Regions from separate parts of the Homo sapiens genome. Here regions 2 and 3 are each linked to region 1. Evidence: fine-mapped expression QTL. A gene starts in region 1. Each other region holds a variant in brackets. All regions are shown on one strand. Distances are from middle to middle.

Region 1 (2,765 bases):
AGACAAAACACTAGCAAATTAAATTTGGCAATAAATAGCAATATCGTGAGCAAGTATTAATAGGATTTATTCCAGTAAAGTTCAATATCAAAAAAACTATTACCATAATGTACCCGATTATCAGATTCAAGAAGAAAAACAATAGGATCATGTCAATAAATGCAAAAAGCACTTATTAAACTTCAGCATTTATTAATAATGAGGATTCGTAGGAAACAGCCAAAGAAGGAAACTTTTTAAACTATTAATAGTACTTATACAGAAAACGTTTCCTTAAGTAAGAGAGAGAAAAAAATCTTAAGAGTTTATAGAGTTTACAGTTTCCAACCCACTGATAAATTCAATTACAGTGAGCATTCATTTAATTGCTAAAAAAAGAAAGCAGCTGACCAGTAAAGCCTAGCTACCAATACGCTGCAACAGACATCACAATTAACGGAAAATTTTGGAAGCATAAGAAGGATACTGGCAGGTCAAGGACACTAGCTGGTCGCCATTTCTATTCAATGTTAAACTAGAAGTCATGGTCTAGACAATGGAATACTATGCAGCTGTTAAAAAGACAACACATAATAAACAAAAAGGCAAATGAGGTTAGGAGGTGGAGGCATGAGGGGACTAACGCAGGTGTCCAGCGTCCCTTGGCCCTGCCACGCTTTTTTTTTTTAATTTCCACCTGACAAACTGCCGTTTATCCTTTAAATACCTTGGCAGCCATCACATCCTGCCCCTTCGTCTTTTGCACTTCCTTTGTACCTCGTGCATACTTCTATAAGCAAATGTATCCGACGGTTTTACAAGAATTTGCTTGCCTACCAGTGTACTTAACCCATGGCTAGCACAGAATAGGACTGGAAAGAAATGCTGCACAGACAGCACTTTTCTCTGAAGGCTCTAGGGCTCCCCAAGCCCCCGCATTAAACTGGTTTGGGCAAAACGACAGGCATTGCTGAGAGCCGCCAGGCCGCCCGCCAGCTGCGGGTCCCCTGTAGGCAGAGCCCTGGGTCACACGCGGACGCGGTCCCGATGTTTCTTCTCAGGCCCTCAGCCCGGCCCACTTCCTCTTTCCTCACTTTAAGGCGCAGACAGCGGTCCCTCTCAAAACAAAACGTACACCAAAACACCATTTTTTTTTTAAACAGGAAGTCCAGAGGCCCGGGTCCAGGGCATCCAGCCCCGGATCTCGAACGCCCTCCTCGCCCCTCGCCCCGCGTAGCCCGGCTGCGCTCCCCGCTCCCCGCCCGGCGTCCACCTCTCGAGCCTGACAGCCCCGCCGCCCGCGCAGGCGCCCCGCCCCGGCCCGGCCCGCCCCGGCCCCGCCGCCAGCGCTTCCATCCCCGCCCCGGCGGGTCCAAGCCGGTGCCGGGCGCCCAGGGGTTGCCGCGCTGGGCGGGAGGGCAGCGCCTGAGAGGGCGGTGGGGTGGCGGGGTTCCTGCGCGCGGCCCGCCATGGAGGTGGAGGAGGCGTTCCAGGCGGTGGGGGAGATGGGCATCTACCAGATGTACTTGTGCTTCCTGCTGGCCGTGCTGCTGCAGGTAAGTCCCCGCGGCCCCGCAGCCGCATTTCCCTCTTCAGGGCCGCCCGGCGCAGGGCTAGGCGTCCGCTCCCAGACCGCCGGGGCCGGGGCCGAGGCCGAGGCTCTGCAAACACCGAGGTGTGGCGAGCGTCGGGGTGGGGCAGGGGCGAGGCGCCGCGCGGTGGCCTGGGCCCGGCCGGCAGCGTCAAGGTCGCCGGCCGGCCTCAGAGCCTCTTGGGTTCTGCTGGGCCCTCCACCCCGCCACCTTGAGTGGTGGAAGGAGCGTGTTGGGGGAGGTTTCTCAGCCGCTATGCTGGTTAAGGAGGGATGCAAAATTGTGTTACCTGCCCTACGCTGTTGCCTATAACACGCTGCAAATATGAAGGGAATTGTTACCCTACCTGTGGCACTGTCACCTTGGAATCTAGGACACAGTCTTGATAATCTGCAGACAAAAGGTTGTGTCTAGGATCGCCTCCCTCTGCGCCGGGTGTCCTCTGCCTCTTTTCCTGGGCTTGAGGGGGCTTACTCTTCTAGGGGCTTTCAAAGCATAGGATTTATTTCCCTCTGGTTTAAGTTCTGCTGGCTCATTCGGCCCTGCGCCAGCCTTGGGCTGAGACTCCCGTGAGCCGAATAGTGCCATCTACCATGTGTGGTTATCAAATGGAATCACTTCTTCATTATAAAGAATTCTCAGAACCTACTTGTACACCCCAGCCTCAAAATATCGATTCCATATGCGAAAGGTCACTACAGATTAACTGCGCCAGGCAAGGATTAGTCCTTCACCAACTTAAATGGCTCATTTGACATTAGTCGCTTCTCTCAATATGCCAGAGGCATTTCATTCACAAATCCTTTCTTAGTATTTGCTGTGAGCCAGCCATTTTACTCTTTCCTTCAGTCATCAGGTTTAATACGGGCTAGGATGTGCTGAACATAGGGATGCCATGGTGGACAAATCATTGACTGCCCTCAGGAGCTTGCATTCCAGTGGCTGCGGGTGGGGCAGGCAGACAGTTAAGTAATTTAGTTAGCATGTGATGATAGTTATTCTGCAGGAAGTACAGAGTGGTCATGGATATAGCCACCAGTCCACAAGTTGCTTAAAGCTTGCATAAGACAGTGGCTCAACAGGAAGATGGGGGAAGGTAGGGGTTGACTTATTGATTAAAATGTTTGGAAGTTCAGTTGATTTCATCATCAGCCAGAAACGGTTCAAATGATGGAGTCAGTTCTTTTTCTAGCC
Region 2 (2,765 bases), 170 kb before region 1:
TCCTCCCACCCTTTCAATCACTTTGTATTACTTCATTTTCTGTATTGCATTTCTGTGTGCTTATAATAACCAACTTTCTGTATTCTGCATAGAACACTGCCTCTACGAGGTCATAAACAATGAAGAAATTCCTGTCTTGCTTGCCACTAACCTAGGTGCAGAACTGAGGGCCCCAACAGTAGTGGAGAGTGGGAGATAATGAAGGGAAAACCAAGCCAGGAAGTGGCAGGGCCAGGGGAAGGGAGTATGCTGTTACATGTGCTGTTACACTTGGTTGTGGGGAGAACTCAGAGAGGCTTTCCAAATATATACAAGGATGTCATCATGTTTACTGGAATGTAAAATGTTCATAGTGCCTAGGCTTGTCATTAAAAACAAGAATGGGCTTGGACTACATAATGAGCAGAAATACCTATTAATCTAAGTCCTCGTCTGGAAAAAGTGTAGAGGAGGTGGGCACCACTTATTAAATGTATCTTATGTTTTATAAACCAGCTGACAAAGTGATAAAAGTAAGGTGTAAGATTGTGCACAAAAAGCTTGTATTTGCATAAAATCAAACCTCAGGTTTTCTGGCTATGGATTATACCCATTGCTGAGAAGTTTAATTTACCAGCTGTTTACAGCATGTTATTCAAATAACCTATAAGTTGCCGGCACAGCAATGTATTGCATTTCTAGGACATACTGTAGATTCTTGCAACTGTTGTTCAGTGTAAATTCTACTTTACAGTATCTGAAAATTGCCTACAGTTCTGTACCCAGTTTGGACATGACTATCTGGCAAAAGAAATAAGCTGGAGAGTTGAAGAAGGACAATTAGACTTTTTGGAAAAGCTGAAAATTAAAAGGTGAAGTGCTGTGTTGGACAAAAGCAAGACCACCAAGGCCACTTGGAGAAGAGCGGAGTGGCCTTGGACTCTGGATAAGCTGGGAAACATCCTCCCAGTGTTTTCTGCAAGTGTTCATTCCTGCCCATCTGTTCTGTGCAATACATAAGTGCCCCACTTATGTTGTTTGCACAGAACCTACTCTGTGGTGAAATGCCAGGTTCTGGCTGCATGCTTTCCCAACAGTCCCTTCTTCTGTCACTCCAGAGTTGGGTGTGTGTCAGGGGTCCCCAGGCGCTCAAGGTTTCATTGACAATTCATTAGAGAGATTCACAGGACTCAGAAAGCTGTTGTACTGATGGTTACAGGTTATTCCAGCAAAAGGATATAGATTAAAATTAGCAAAGGGAAAAGATACATGGGGCAAAGTCCAGGAGAAACCAGGTGCAAGCTTCCAGATGTTCCCTCCCAATAGAGCTGCACAGGATGTATTTAATCCTCTCAGCCTCAGTGTGTGATAACACATATAAAGTGTTGCCAACTAAGGAAGCTCACCCAAGCCTTGGTGTCTAGAGTTTTTATTGGGGATCTGTCATGTAGGCATGCTGTACCTGTGTGACTGGTTTCAGCTACTCAGACTCCAGCACTCCTAGACCAAAAGCA[A/G]GTGTTTGCCACAAGTCACATTGTTAGCACAATCTGATCCAACTGGTAACATGTGACCCAAGGCCTCAAGCAAACAAAATGTCCCTTATCAGGCAGAATATCCAGGGACTCAGAGCTTATCTCCCGGAAACTGGCCAAGGGCCATTGCGGAAATCAGGCCTTTCTTGGGAATGTATAGGGTTTGAGCAACTCAGATCTCCTGAGCTAACACTTTCCTTCCCAGCAAGAAGGGGTAGTTTGGAGGCAGAGGGACTTTTTCTGGCCAGTGGCCTCAGGACTGAAGCCTTTCTGCATAGAGACTCAGCTCCCCACAATAGCAGTGTTTTGGTAACCATGAGCATTTGGTCAGACCATCTGTGCTGGGCATAAGGGTTGATAGTGTCCACACTACCTATGCTACTGCTGAGAGTGGGAAACCTGCTGGGGGATTCCTTCAAGGATGAGTCATCCTCAAGGGGCCTCAACCCTTTGTCCCCACCGAGCATCACTCCTAAGTGCTACCCATTTCACCCTTAAACATTACTCAGACCTGCCCTTCCTCTGAGCCTCTGCCAGCATTACCTAGTCCAGATCAACGTCATCCTTCACTTGTACCATTGCAGCAGGCTCCTCCCCAGCCTCCTGGCCCACTGTCATCCCACTACAGTCAGAGTGAGCTTTAATGAAACTAAGTCTCCCCTTCAGTGGCTCCCCATGGCCTGTAGGATGAAATCCAAGCTCCATGACTCTGAATGGAACATTCTCTTGCCCCTACTCCAGCCTCTTGTCTCCTCTGCCTCTCAAGATTGCCTTTGACAATCCAAATTGCTTGTAGATCTCAGTATAGAGCTTGTTGTTTCTGTCTGTTGTTTCTTTGCACCAAGAGCCAATCATAATCCCAAAAGACACAATCTCAAATGTGATAATCCCACATGTTGAAATCCCCAAAAATCAAAATCACAAAATTACAATTCTGGGAAAAGTAATTTTAAAATTAGTTTAAAGATATTTTATTTGAGATACATATAAAAATGACAGAACACTCACAGGCCACTTTATACAATAAAATAGATAAAAGTAATACATTTTTGCAATCATAACTACTCAGGTATACTGACAGTCACATCGTGATGAGCAGACAACTGTATTCATAAAGAAATAGGTCAAAAAGTGAAATGTATATATAAATATCATTATGGTTGGTAATTGTGTACACCCAGTCTCATAACTGTAACCATCTGAAATACTGTGATAAACAACCTAAGTCTTTTGATGAAATAGATCAAAAAATGC
Region 3 (2,765 bases), 130 kb after region 1:
TAAGTTCTACACGGCATGTTCTAATTATTGGGCAGTTTTTCAACATTCCTGACACCTTTCGGCTGTGAATAGTGGCTTCCTTCAAGTACACAACATCTTATCCTGTTGTTTTGCACTTTCTGAGTTGAAATCAGCCTTTCCAAGGAAAATTTCCTTATTCCTTTTCTACTTTTGTTGTGTTCCTAAATGAACTAATGGGAGCTTACTCATTATTTAACTTTACTTTTCTCACTTTATCTTATGCCTGCAGATGGGAGATAGAATGGGATTACATTGTAGAATAAGAAAAGGGGCCACCGTCATTTAGTCATTAATTCATGCATGCATTCATTCATTTATTAAGCAGCTACTATATGTCAAATACTGTTTCCAACAAGGTAAATCTTTTCCTTTAAGGAGCTTTTGGTACCACAGGAGCTAGATACAAGCAAAGTAACAAAATGCAGTATGATAAGAGCTAAAGTAGGAGTTTAGCACTGGGTGGCCTAGAAGCATCGTGTAGAGTCCCCCACCCAGTCTTGAGAATCAGAGAAGGCCCTGGAGCAGGTAGCAGCTAAGACAAATCTTGGAGAACAAATAGAAGCCCAGTGAAGGGGTGGAAGGTAAGGGGAGAGTCCAAGCAGTGAGCATTGTCGGTGCAAGGGTCCAGAGAAGATGGTGAGGGAGGGGGTCTTGCAGGGAACTGTAACTATTTTAGTATTGCAGGAGTGCAGAGTGCAGGGGTGAATCTTGTGTGTAGTACAGTGTTGCTTAAAAAAGATAAATTAAATAAACAAATAACCCAAACAAGTTAGAATATCCCAGATAGGATATATACTCTTGCATCCACCGCAGACCCCTATCGCTTTCCATTGTTCTACTCTATCCTGATTTATTTTATTAACCACCTGGCCTATGTAGGCATTTGTGTTTGGGATTCCCTACCTCTGAACCCAGACCAAAGATCAAATTCAAACTATCTCAGTTACCATGTCAGGTGTGAAAGGAAAGAAGACCAGCTTTTTGATGGAACTGTGAAGACCAACCCAGTGAACAATCCTACCCACCAGGTAAGACCAGGAGAATTACTCACATACATTAAAAGAAGGATCTTTCATATGGAACCAACCTAATTGTCCATCGATCAATGAGTGGATGAAGAAAATGTGGTACATATACACCATGGAATACTACTCAGCCATAAAAATAATAAAATTATGTCTTTTGCAGCAATTTAGATGGAGCTGGAGGCCACTATTTTAAGTGAAGTTACTCAGGAATGGAAAAACCAAATACCTTATCTTCTCACTTATAGCTGGGAGCTAAGCTATGGGTATGCAAAGGCATACAAAGTGGTATAATGGACTTTGGAGACTCAGAAGGGGGACGTGGGAGGGGACTAAGGAATAAAAAACTACATATTGGGTACAATGTACACTATGTGGGTGATGAATGCACCAAAATCTCAGACTTTAGTACTATACAATTCATCCACATAACCAGAAACCACTTGTACGTAAAAAGCTATTGAAATAAAAATTTAAAAACAAAAAACCAAACAAGCCTTAAAAAA[T/A]AGATCTTTTTCCTCAGGGAGTGAAATGGAGTATAAACACAAATATTTATTGAGGTCTTATCATGTGCCAAGTACTATGCTAAATTTTTTTTTATATCAGGCCTTTCTATAAAAGAAGATAGCAATTTAAGCAGTCACAGATGCATGTATATAATTAAATTTATAATTTGTAAGGTGATTTTACACATCTTAAAATATATTTTATTTACTAGAATGTCACTTTATAATGTGACATTCTAATAAATAATGTCATTTTGCATAATGTTTAATGCAAACAAATAAGCATTCAGTAATGTTTATTGAGGGCCAGTTGTGCGTTAGGTACTGAGGCTTCTCTGGAGATACAGAACAGACTGGCCCCTGCCTCGGGTTGTTCACTACTGTGGACTTCAGCACATCACAGACGATTATCTCTGCCTGGTATTCTGCATTGTCAGATTCAGTCTGAGTCATCTTGGGATTACAGGAAATCTTTTAAAAAGTCAGAGTTTGTTCCTGGCTAATATGGTGAAATCCCGTCTCTACTGAAAATACAAAAAAATTGGCAAGGCGTGGTGGCGGGCGCCTGTAGTCCTAGCTACTGGCGAGGCTGAGGCAGGAGAATGGCATGAACCTGGGAGGCGGAGCTTGCAGTGAGCCGAGATTGCGCCACTGCACTCCAGCCTGGGCGACAGAGCGAGACTCCGTCTCAAAAAAAAAAAAAAAGTCAGAGTTTGTAATCCTGCAAACTTTAACAAATTTGTATATTTAAGGTTGATTTTGATCAAGCTAACCTTCCTCCTTCTTGGAATTAAAATCTCAGACACTAAGTAAATCAGTAACAAACACTTCTGCTGGTAAACCAGGGCTAGCATTATCTCCCCGGGACTTCTCAGATTGGCAGCGTAGGGTTTTGCATGCCTTGTTAACCTGACTTGTAATAAGTTCTTAGTCTTCACAATGGAAACTGAGCCAAAGCAGGTTTACATTTCCGTACTTGCATTTGGTGTGAGTCATGAGAAAGGAGAATATTTATTTTCTGAGGAAGGAAGAGAACCTGAGCTAACTTTGAATTTCCTCAGTGGCCTAGCATACAAGTGCCTTAGGCTTACTGTAATTCAATCCTTTTGCGAATCCTATATCCAATTACCCAGATATCTACATCTAAAAAAAGCTTGTCTTCATCAAACTGTCAGACAGGAGCTGTCAGAGAGTCTATTTGTGGGACTGCCCT

Which allele goes with the higher level. Alleles are on the strand shown, and positions count from the first base shown. SD is a standard deviation of normalised expression in the study named. Not every link is listed here.
With allele A in place of T in region 3, the expression in neutrophils of the gene that starts at base 1,334 in region 1 is higher (large effect, 0.78 SD a copy in Naranbhai 2015).

What was found. PIP is the estimated chance that this variant, and not a neighbour inherited with it, causes the effect.
Region 2: its variant is fine-mapped to the expression of SLC22A15 in lung (TOPMed, PIP 0.91).
Region 3: its variant is fine-mapped to the expression of SLC22A15 in neutrophils (Naranbhai 2015, PIP 0.95).

What each region holds. Positions count from the first base shown.
Region 1 is chr1:115,975,180-115,977,944 of GRCh38, forward strand. SLC22A15 (solute carrier family 22 member 15) reads left to right here and starts at 1,334. Exons shown (of 12, transcript NM_018420.3): 1 at 1,334-1,535. The coding sequence starts at 1,449. LOC101928977 (a long non-coding RNA gene) reads right to left here and starts at 2,097. Exons shown (of 5, transcript NR_125970.1): 1 at 1,918-2,097. RefSeq lists silencers at 1,181-1,410, 1,471-1,720.
Region 2 is chr1:115,809,791-115,812,555 of GRCh38, forward strand. No RefSeq gene overlaps it. Among named protein-coding and RNA genes, the nearest start is that of NHLH2, 30 kb to the right of the region's middle. The variant A/G (reference allele first, on the strand shown) is at 1,494.
Region 3 is chr1:116,107,811-116,110,575 of GRCh38, forward strand. No RefSeq gene overlaps it. Among named protein-coding and RNA genes, the nearest start is that of MAB21L3, 2.2 kb to the right of the region's middle. The variant T/A (reference allele first, on the strand shown) is at 1,553.